Linked DNA regions of Homo sapiens. The protein of the gene in region 2 interacts with the protein of the main gene of each other region in a pairwise test. Each region holds a gene or a part of one and is shown on either strand. Other genes may lie near its edges. The genes, in order: EIF4ENIF1, ALG13 and CPSF7.

The links.
Region 1: the proteins of ALG13 (region 2) and EIF4ENIF1 interact in a two-hybrid assay, tested with the Homo sapiens proteins (one large-scale study listed by BioGRID).
Region 3: the proteins of ALG13 (region 2) and CPSF7 interact in a two-hybrid assay, tested with the Homo sapiens proteins (one large-scale study listed by BioGRID).

What each region holds. Positions count from the first base shown.
Region 1 is NC_000022.11:31,451,724-31,455,376, forward strand, and holds part of EIF4ENIF1 (eukaryotic translation initiation factor 4E transporter), read right to left. Parts: intron 3,593-3,653; coding exon 3,413-3,592; intron 2,654-3,412; coding exon 2,421-2,653; intron 1-2,420. UniProt on the Homo sapiens protein: EIF4E-binding protein that regulates translation and stability of mRNAs in processing bodies (P-bodies). Plays a key role in P-bodies to coordinate the storage of translationally inactive mRNAs in the cytoplasm and prevent their degradation.
Region 2 is NC_000023.11:111,705,141-111,708,793, forward strand, and holds part of ALG13 (UDP-N-acetylglucosamine transferase subunit ALG13), read left to right. Parts: intron 1-2,886; coding exon 2,887-3,253; intron 3,254-3,653. UniProt on the Homo sapiens protein: Catalytic subunit of the UDP-N-acetylglucosamine transferase complex that operates in the biosynthetic pathway of dolichol-linked oligosaccharides, the glycan precursors employed in protein asparagine (N)-glycosylation.
Region 3 is NC_000011.10:61,409,434-61,413,086, reverse strand, and holds part of CPSF7 (cleavage and polyadenylation specificity factor subunit 7), read left to right. Parts: intron 1-1,149; coding exon 1,150-1,318; intron 1,319-1,981; coding exon 1,982-2,144; 3' UTR 2,145-2,149; exon of another isoform or gene 2,150-2,506; intron 2,507-3,653.

The DNA.
Region 1 (3,653 bases), on a different chromosome or scaffold from region 2:
TCAAGCAACCCTCCCACCTTGGCCTCCCACGTAGCTCGAACTATAGGTGTACACCACCAGGCCTGGCCAGTGGTTACATTTTGTGCATCCAACCTGGAGTCCCCTCCTGCATTTCAGGACATCCCTATGCCCATTTAGCTCTGTGTGAAGTGCTTTCTCTGGTGTAGTTTCCCTTCCACTAGATGGAGCTGTCAAAGTCCAAAGCAGTGTCTAGGCATGACAAATAGCTCAAGAATACCCAAGTATTTTATTGTTGATTTTGGAACTGGGACTAAAGGCAGATGATTTTATAAGTAATCTCTTTAAGAGTCATTTACTTCCATCTAATAAAAACAAATAGACAACTTTATACTGCATGGCTTATTATACTTGGAGGATAGAATCTATAATTTAAAACAGAATTTAGATTGAACCAGCATGTATTATTTTTGGATGAACCAATATGACAACCTAAATGGATGGAGGCAGATCAGAAATAGTATACAAAACATACACAGCAGTAGTAATTAAAGACACCGAATTCAAAAAGTAAACCATGACTTAACAACATGCAAATTGAGCAATATTTTGAGATAACACCTGCTATTCTTACTCCATTACTTTCCTTGTTGTATTCTTTCCTGCTAGCTGAGTTTGTCTTAGCCTTTGCCTAGCCACTTGAATGTGTCATCCATCCGTTTGGCAGGTGTTTGAGGCTCATTTGCTCAGCTAAAACCAGATACACTTCTGAGTGCTAAAACCCCAACATCAAACCAACTGCCCTTACAACTCGAGTAAATTGTGTTAATATCAAATCCTAGAATCATATCTGCAATAAAATGTGGAAAAACATCAGGTAAACTGCTGAATGCCCCCTTCCATATTTTTAGTTGCTCACACCAAAAGAAAGAAGCTAATTATAAGATATGAACCACACCATTGCAGTCAGCACCCAATCACCAAGACACAAATGTAACGAGAAAGGAAAATAGGATAGTCTACCATCTTTCAGTCTGATCTTCATTTGAAAGCATTTGTATCTAATAATTCTTTGTATAAAAGTAACTCTAAAGCAGTTTTACAGGGACATTCTCCTGCAACTGGTATGGTGTGGTCAGATACAAAGAAGTCAGTCTACCTATCTGAGGTGCCTCCTTTCAAGTGTAGGTCAGTCCTGGCACTAAGGAATAATGGAACCTCTGTCTGTCCTATTGGTCAGATAAGGAATGCTAAAAGTCAGTTGCTTTCTTTTGGTATAAGACATAATGATTCAAACAGCTATTGCTACTTGCATCTTGGCTAACTGGTAAGTTCCCAGGCAAGCAGGGAACAGGAAAAAAAGAGAGAAAACTCAATTTGGTAAATTTGCTATAACTTAGCAACTAGAATAAGTCCATGTTTATGTTTTTATTATTCATATCTACCCTGCTTCCACATTAGTTTGTATCAAGAGATAGTGATATTAACACATAGGCTATGGGTAAGAACTACCCTCTCAAAATTGTTAGGACAAAGAACCAGTATATTATAAACATTTGCATTTACAAGGTGATATGCAGTTGTGTCACCTTGTAACCTAACTTCATGCCTACAAGTTTTGTTTTTAACTTGGAGCCACAACTTTTTCCATTAGTAAATTGACAGAATGTAATTATCCTGACAAACCCATCTTACTTTTTTTTTTTTTTTTTGGAGACAGTCTCACTCTGTTGCCCAGCCTGGAGTGCAGTGGCGTGACCTCGGCTCACTGCAACTTTCATTTCCCAGGTTCAAGCAGTTCTCTTGTCTTGGCCTCCCAAGTAGCTGAGATTACAGGCGCATGCCCCCACGCCTGGCTAATTTTTATTTTTAGTAGAGATGGCGTTTCACCATGTTGGCCAGGCTGGTCTCAAACTCCTGACTTCAGGTGATCTGCCTGCCTCAGCCTCCCAAAGTGCTGGGATTACACGCGTGAGCCACTGTGCTCAGCCCCATCTTAGATACTTTACAAATGATTTGTATGACTGCAAGAATGCAGGTAATCCCTGGTATCTGGGAATAATTAGAAGATGTGAATAAAGATTTTACTATACAAATATGGTAAAGAATATGAACTTAAGTAGCTGAATAACAAGAAAATTGTCTCTGGAGTTCATCCAAAAAGATAGTTTTATACCTCATTTTAGCAGTGACTTAAAGTTATACAGGCATTACCATTAAGACTGAATCTTTTAATCTTTATACTGTCACCCACAATACATATAAATTAACCACAAGCCTGCTTTTTCCAGTAACAAATAGCATATCAATAATTAAGGAACACACAAAAGCATCAAGGACCAAATGACTACTAAAGAATTTCCAACTTACTCAGAATACCTTTTTAAAAATCCTTTTATTGTGGTGGGAAAAAGAAGAAAAAAAAAGGAGAAAAGGGTGGGGGGTTTGTGTCAGATACTTACGCTGACTTTGGGCTGAGAAGGCAAAGTCCCACTTGCCTTCATTGTGCTCACTAGCTTGTTGAACGCAGTCATGTCTCCGTCTTTCTTCAGTTGTCGATTGTTGGTTACGGCACTCAAGGTCTCTTCTAGGTGTTCTGCCATGAAGGGAGTTGAATTCTTCACTTGCTGGTCAACCTTCAAGCCCTTCAGACCTGCTTCTACCTCCTCCACTGAAAGCACAACCCCTGAATGTGCTGAGAAGTTGAGAACGTCCAGGTTAAATCAAGCAAAGAGATATCTGGTAGGAATTCTCTTTGGCTAGTATGACAGATAAGATGAAAATAATTTATTTCAAAATTGAGATGAGACTGTCAGAAAAGACTGACACCAAAAATAAACTAATAACACTTAAAATCAAATTGTGTACTAAGAGATGGCATAAACTAAACCTAAAATGTTTAGATGCTAGAAACTGGGGGACCACAACTATGAAGTGCTATTCTTTAAAACTTGACAAGCTCCTGCTGTGCATCCTGCAGAAGGATATGAGTCTTCTGGGAGACTTGTTACCTGGGACAAGAATCCCAGATAGCCCAACATTGCCAAGATTGCTGCCTGCACCGTGGTCATTATATCACTAAGTTTTTATGTTGAGAATTTATAGCCTAAGCAAGAACATGGAAGACTAGGGCAGATTTGTGAGGAAATGGTAAGTTATGCTCTGGAGGAATAAAACATTCACTGGAGTTTGTTTTCAACATTCACTGGATTATTACAACCAGACCCTAGGTAAGAACTTACAGGAAAAGTTCTCATAGGGCTCATGACCCACTGTGAGATTCTCAAAGAGGTGGTATTGTTTGATGAAATGAGTTTTTAAAAAAGAACATTAAACAAAAACCCAATATATATTTGACTTTTTATGAAACAGAGGTTATGTTAGACCCAACTGCCTGAAGACTGAACATCTAGACCTTTTCAGATATCTAAAACAGATATTCATAAACACTTACAGCTTTCTTTAAGTTTTTCTTTATTTGCAGAAAGGCTGGAAAGAAGAGGTTTCAAATCCACTTTGGCTTTCTGTAGCATTTCTAAAATATCCACTTTATTTTCAGCATGGTCTTCCAATGGTATAGGAGCAAAGTAATTCCCCGAGTTCTGTCCAGGAGAGAGGATGGCTTGCTCCAGACCTGATATTGCAAATAAACATACTCAAAATTAATCTGTTCCAGTAAAGAAACATGCCTTCGA
Region 2 (3,653 bases):
GCTTGTTACTGTCTGTATTGTTTATTACAGCTATCCTGGTAGGTATGTAATGATGTCTTATTGTGGTTCTAATTTTCATTTTCCTAAAGATCAATGATTTTGAATATCTTTTTATGTGCTCATTAGTCATTCTTATATCTTTGGTGAAATGTGTATTCAAATCTTTTGTCTATTTAAGAAATTGGATTTTTTTTATTGTTGACTTTTCAGAGTTCTTTATATATTTTGGTACAAAGTTTTTCTGGTTAGATATGTGATGTAAAAATATTTTATTCCAGTCTATGGCTTGTATTTTCATTCTCCTAACAATGTCATTTGCAGAGCAAAAGTTTTTAATTTTGATAAAATCGAGTTAATTTTTTTTTCTATTATGTATCTGAGAACTCACTGCCTAACCCAGGATCTTAAAGATTTTCTCCTATGTTTTATTTTTTAAAATTTTGAAGTTTTATTTTACATTTATACCACTTTGAGTTAATTATAGTACAAGGTGTGAGGTATAGGTTGAGGATCCTTTTTTTTGCATGTGGATGGTCAATTGTTCTGGCACCACTTGATGAAAATGCTATCTTTTTTCTATTCAACTGATTTTGCACCTTTGTCAAAAATCAATGGACCATATTTGTGTGGATCTACTTCTGTGTGCTTCCCTGTGTGTTAACTTTTCTCTTGCTCTGTCTCCTTTTGTCTTCCTGTCCCTACTTGTGTTTTTTTTTCAGTTTTCTATTACTTTTCTGATTCTCTCCCTCCTTCTCCTGATTTTCCCTTCCCCCATTCCCTTCCTCAAAATGAAGCATTTAGATTGCATTGTTTTATATATCATACTTATTTTTAGTTTAAAAAGCAGATGTGAAGCATTTGTGTTTTTCTTTACAAGTACAATATGCTGGAAACAAATTAACTTTTAAATTATAATCCCTTTTTTTTTTTTTGAGACGGAGTCTCGCTCTGTTGCCCAGGCTGGAGTGCAGTGGTGTGATCTCGGCTCATGCCATTCTCCTGCCTCAGCCTCCCAAGTAGCTGGGACTACAGGCGCCCACCACCACGCCCAGCTAATTTTTTGTATTTTTAGTAGAGATGGGGTTTCACCGTGTTAGGCAGGATAGTCTCGATCTCCTGACCTCGTGATCTGCCTGCCTTGGCCTCCCAAAGGGCTGGGATCACAGGCGTGAGCCATTGTGCCTGACCAAATTATAACCCTTAATTAATTTTTCTCAGTGAATTAGTGACCTTAACGAAAGATGGCAATCTCTCTTCCCAAACTGTGTGTTTCAGAACTTCTGCAAAAGGCATCACTTCTCCAGTGTTACAGTTTCTTTAAAAAAGAAATTAGTGGCTGGACATGGTGGCTCATGCCTCTAATTCCAGCACATTGTGAAGCTGAGGTGGGAGGATAGCTTTAACCCAGGAGTTCGAGACCAGCTGGGCAATGTGGCAAGACCCCATCTCTACAGAAAATAGAAAAATTAGCTGGGTGTGGTGGTGGCATGCACCTGTGGTCTTAGCTACTTGGGAGGCTGAGGCAGGAGGATTGTTTGAGCCCAGGAGGTTGAGGCTGCAGTCAGCTGTGTTCACACCACTGCACTTGCACTTCAGCCTGGGTGACAGAGTGAGACACTTTAAAAAAATAAAAAGAAATTAAGGTAATTTCAAATTGGCATGCAAAGGAAGTCAAGATTTATTCCTTTTTTACCATGTCAAACATTATTTCATTCCCAAATTATAAAATATTGCTGCTTTTCCTAGAGGGAGCAGTCATGATTACTACTGGATCCACAGATACAAAAAAAAAAAAAAAAGGAAAAAACAATTTTGAAAGCAGCTTAATGTTGTGCCTTCTCTAAAGCCAGCTTTTGACCTATTTATTTTTAATACTTAAAAAATGTAAGAAAGGAATTGGATTTTTGCATTTAAATAAAAATAAAAGACACTAGATAGTATAGATAATAGGAACAAATAAAACAAGCAATTGGGCCTGCCTTTGGCACTTAGTATTTTCTTTGGTTTTCTCAGAATCCAGAGTAATGTGTCTGGAAAAGTACACTAGTAAAACATTGAAACACATCTCTCATTGTCCAACTCATCTCATACTCTACCATACCATTTCAAATGTAGTCTATCCATTTGTGGATATTTTCATGCTGCTTCCATTTAAATTTTTATTTCCATTTTTAAAGAAACACACTTTTTTGCATTTTTCTTTTTTATTGGTGCCATATAGTAGTTTGGAGGCATTAGTCAAGAATTGTATAAAGTTTCCCTAGCATGGCTAATAAGATTTAGTTTCTGTGATCCTGGCAGAGATTATTATCTAGAATTAAATGAGAAGATTACTTCAACCCTATATCTGAAATATCCAGGTAATAGCCTTGGCACTTAGCTTGAACTGTGCCCTCTGCCGCTATAGATTAAGGGAAGTTCCTTCTCCTTTTTTGTGTTTATTAAAAAGGTATTAATGCAAATGCTTACTGGTTAACTAGGTTCATGAAGATTCTGTCCCTCCATGTTTCCCTGAAACTATGAAAGGAGCAGGGAATTTGGGGAGAGACTGTAGTTGAAAATTCAGCTAGAGATCTTAAAGCAATTCTTCAAGCAATGTAATGTGGACCAGGCTGCATCCTACACACCTGAGCCTTATTGTAGTCCCTTTTCAGCCTCGTGCAGCAGTTGCCCCGAGTTAAGCTGCAAAGTCAGTTTCCTTCTAGACCCAAAGCTCAGCTGCTTATGCATACTTTTCTCAACCTTGGTCTGATTGGGTTAGATTGGGTTAATTCCACTCTTTCCCAAGGAGGTAACTCTAAGTACTTTCTCCCTCCCTCCCATGTCTCCTGCTTAGTCTGAGTTCCCTATTCCTAGGAGGATTGGCTCTTCCTCTTCTTTTCACAGGGTCCTGACTTGTCCTGGGCAAGCCAAGTCCATTGCTTCTGCTCCTGGGAAGTGCCAAGATTCTGCAGCGCTGACTTCAACTGCCTTTTCAGGCCTAGACTTTGGGCTGCTTTCCGGATACCTGCATAAGCAAGCCCTTGTTACTGCTACCCATCCTACCTGCACCCTGCTTTTTCCCTCTTGCCACGCTTTTTTTCCTCTCCCTCTTACCCCCACCCTGTACAAAATGCATAAAGGATGGAAAAACTACTGCAGCCAGAAGTCTTTGAATGAGGCATCAATGGATGAATATTTAGGCAGCTTAGGGCTGTTTCGAAAGCTGACTGCCAAGGATGCCTCTTGCCTCTTTCGGGCCATTTCGGAGCAGGTAAAAGGAAAACATATCTTCCCTGTACTGAGTTTTCAGAGTTTGAGACATGGGATGGTCCTGTAGTTTGCCAGAAGAAACAAAAAAATTCCCCTGCTTTCTAGTGAAAACATCGGGCCTGTCAAGGTCCTAGAGAGAAGCTGCCTGCTCTTATTAGCTTGGTGCATGCCTTTGCTGAATAGTCTATATTGCTGAACCTTTGCTATCTTTTCTGTTTTTTTAAATGCCAGTTTGTAATGTAGGAGGGGTAAGATAAGGAGGCTAAAGACAACTTTGAAATATATCTTGATCCTTTGTAAGCATCCCCTGCTTCCTCTAATTTTAATGCCTAAGAAAAAAATTATAGGCTGTGCACATAAGGAGTAGAAAAGGGGATGGGGCATGACAGTCATCCTTCCCC
Region 3 (3,653 bases), on a different chromosome or scaffold from region 2:
AGCCAGGTGAAGTGGCATGCAGGAGGATGGCTTGAGCCCAGGAGTTCAAGGATGCAGTGAGCTATGATCATACCACTGCTCTTCAGCCTGGATGATAAAACAAGACCCATCTCAAAAACAAAATAGTCCTCTATACAAGGACCATCAACCAATAAGACCACCTTTTATAGTTTATATTCCTCCAGAATTTTTTCTATGCATATGACAATTTATATAATTTTTATTGTTTTTACAAAAACAGGATATGGTTTTGAAACTTGCTTGTTTCAATTAGTATATTCTGGACACCTATTATATCAACATATAACATAACATTTATTGATCCTTACTGTGTGCCTGGCACTGTGCTAAGGGCTTTACATGGATTACTTTGTTTACATACAGGTTTACCTCCTGCTTTTTTAATTGTTAATAGTACATTAATAATGTAATATTCTGTAGAACCAATGTTCCTTTATATAGCCAGACCCTATTGAAGATAATATAACAAACAACACTGGCCGGGCGCAGTGGCTCATGCCTGTAATCCCAGCACTTTGGGAGGCCAAGGCGGGCGGATCACAGGGTCAGGAGATCAAGACCATCCTGGCTAACACGGTGAAACTCCGTCTCTATTAATAATACAAAACATTAGCTGGGTGTGGTGGCAGGCGCCTGTAGTCCCAGCTACTCAGGAGGCTGAGGCAGGAGGATGGCGTGAACCTGGGAGGCGGAGCTTGCAGTGAGCCGAGATCACGGCCACTGCACTCCAGCCTGGGCAACAGAGTGAGACTGTCTCAAAAAAAAAAAAAATGAAAAAAAATAAACACTAAAACACTGTTAAACATACACACTTGTGAACAGAAGTAGAAAATTTTTAATAGAATTGCTGGCTCAAAAAATATGCACATTGTTTATTTTAATAGATGTCAAATAGCCCCTGGACAACAGTGTGTCAGTTTGTTCATCTGACAACATCTGTTAAATTCCGAACTGCTGGAATATAGGTGTCATCCAGTTTTACACTTGCAACATCTGCCTTGTCTCTTTTACCGCGGTTGTTTGGGACGGCTAGCTACTCTTGGTTTGTGTCTGCCTGAGTTCTCCTTTTGGTCCAGTTAGTTTACCATCTCTCCTCACCCTTGGCCTTTCTCCTTCATCCTTTATCAGGGGATTACAGTGACGCAATTGAGACGCTGCTCACAGCCATTGCGGTTATCAAACAGTCCCGGGTTGCCAATGATGAGCGTTGCCGTGTCCTCATCTCCTCTCTTAAGGACTGTCTTCATGGCATCGAAGCCAAGTCCTACAGTGTGGGTGCCAGTGGGAGCTCTTCCAGGTGAGTTGGTGATTGTGTCCTCACCTACCAGCCCCAAGCAGCACTCTTCCAGGGATAGGGAGTGGGGACAAATGGAGCCCAGGGAATCTGGGAAAGACCTGGCCGAAAGTCTGGACGTTAGCCTTCATGTCTTTTTGGGGAAGAAACTAATCAGATGCTTTCATTAATAAGTGTTGTAACATCTGGAATCTGGTGGGTGAGGCAGTGGGCTCATGTAGGAAAAAATACAGACAGATATTTTTAAGAACATGGGTTTTGGAGCCCTACAAGCTTGGATTGGAATCCCAGTTCTGCTGCTAACTATCTGTATGACCTTCTTGTGTATGGAAGTTAGTCAACTTTCCAAGCCTTATTTTTCTCATTTTCTAAAAAAGGGACACTGATAGTATTTATCTTACAGACCTGTTGTAAAGATTAGGTCAGATAATCCATACAAAATTATTAGCACTACACCTGATAAATTAGTTCTCAACAGATAAATTTACCTGTTAATCATCTTCCCAAAAAAGAGTAGTCCTCAAAGAGCTAAAATCCTCAGACAGCAGGCCCATGATAGAGTAATAGAGGAATAGTTTAGGCAAATATCAGAAGACACCAAAACACCACATTCTTGGAAAGAAAGTGGTAGGCCTTCTGAGTGAGGCTGAAGGATCTTTCTAATAGGAAAAGACATCGCTCCCGGGAAAGGTCACCTAGCCGGTCCCGGGAGAGCAGCAGGAGGCACCGGGATCTGCTTCATAATGAAGATCGGCATGATGATTATTTCCAAGAAAGGAACCGGGAGCATGAGAGACACCGGGATAGAGAACGGGACCGGCACCACTGAGAAAGGTGGGGAGAAGCCCCGTTCCTGGCTGCTGGGGGATTTTTTATTAAAAAAAGATTTATAGTGAAGAATTCTCTCTCTTTAAAGCAAAAGTAAATGCAGCAAGGGTAGGGGGAACTTCTGATTTACATAACTGGAATTTCAGGGCAGATTTTCTGCACATTTATGGGGAGTCTTACCCTGAGATTCAGCTGTTTCTGCTTGTTTCTTGACTGCCTTAACCTGGTATCTGAGTGAGAGTATGGTGTCTGCATTCAGGTACCAATTTGAATCCCAGTTTCTCCACTAATAATTGGCCATATTACTTTCTGTTCCACAGTTTCATTTGTAAATGAAGATAATAAAAGCAACTGTCCCAGTGACTTGCTAAGTTTTAGTGAGAGAGTCCATGTAGACCATTTAGCACTCATGGTACCTGTCACATAGTAAGTTCTCAATAATTAATAGCCATTGTTATTATCATTATGAACTTTCAATTTAAATTAGGAAAATTGACTAAGAATAGTAAAGCCATTGCCACTTAGTTTTCAAGCTGCAACATTAATGATTTTAAGAATTAGGCTTGGCATGATGGCTCACACCTATGATCCCAGCACTTTGGGAGGCCAAGATGGGAGGATTGTTTGAGCCAGGAGTTCGAGACCAGCCTGGGCAACATAGGGAGACCCTGTCTCTACAAAAAATACAAAAATTAGCCAAGTGTGGTGGTCCCAGCTACTTAGGAGGTGGAGGTGGGAGGGTTGCTTGAGCCTAGGAGGTCGAGGCTGCAGTGATCTGTGATTGCACCACTGCACTCTGGCCTGAGCGACAGTGAGACCTTGTCTGAAAAAAGGTAGGGAGGAGGGGCGGGTGGGTGCCTCATGCCTGTAATCCCATCACTTCAGTAATTTGGGAGGCAGAGGCTAGAGGATCACTTAAGCAGGAGTTTGAGACCAGCCTGAGCAACATAGTGAAACCCTATCTTTTTTTTTTTGAGACAGAGCCTCACTTTGCCGCCCACGCTGGAGTATAGTGGCATGATCTCAGCTCACTGCAACCCCCACTTCCCGGGTTCAAGCTATTCTGCCTCAGCCTCCCCAGCAGCTGGGGCTACAGGCGCGCGTCACCACGCCCGCTAATTTTTCTGTTTTTAGTAGAGGCGGGGCTTTACCATACTGGCCAGGTTGGCCTTGAACTCCTGACTTCGTGATCAGCCCACCTTGGCCTCCCAAAGTGCTAGGATTACAGGCGTGAGCCACCATGCCTGGCCGAGACCCCATCTCTTTAAAAAAAAAAAAACGGTTTATTTAAAAGATTTTGAAAATTAATATGCTTTAGTCAGAGAGGAGAAAGCTGATCTGAAAAATTATCTTTAACAGGTTTAGAGGCTTTGTGGTGGATAATTAACTTCAACGGAAGGGTTTTTTGCTTTTGGAAAAGACTTAGTGACAAGGTTGTTTATTTTGTTGTTGTGTTTTTTGTTTTGTTTTGTTTTGAGACAGAGTCTCACTCTTGCCCAGGCTGGAGTGC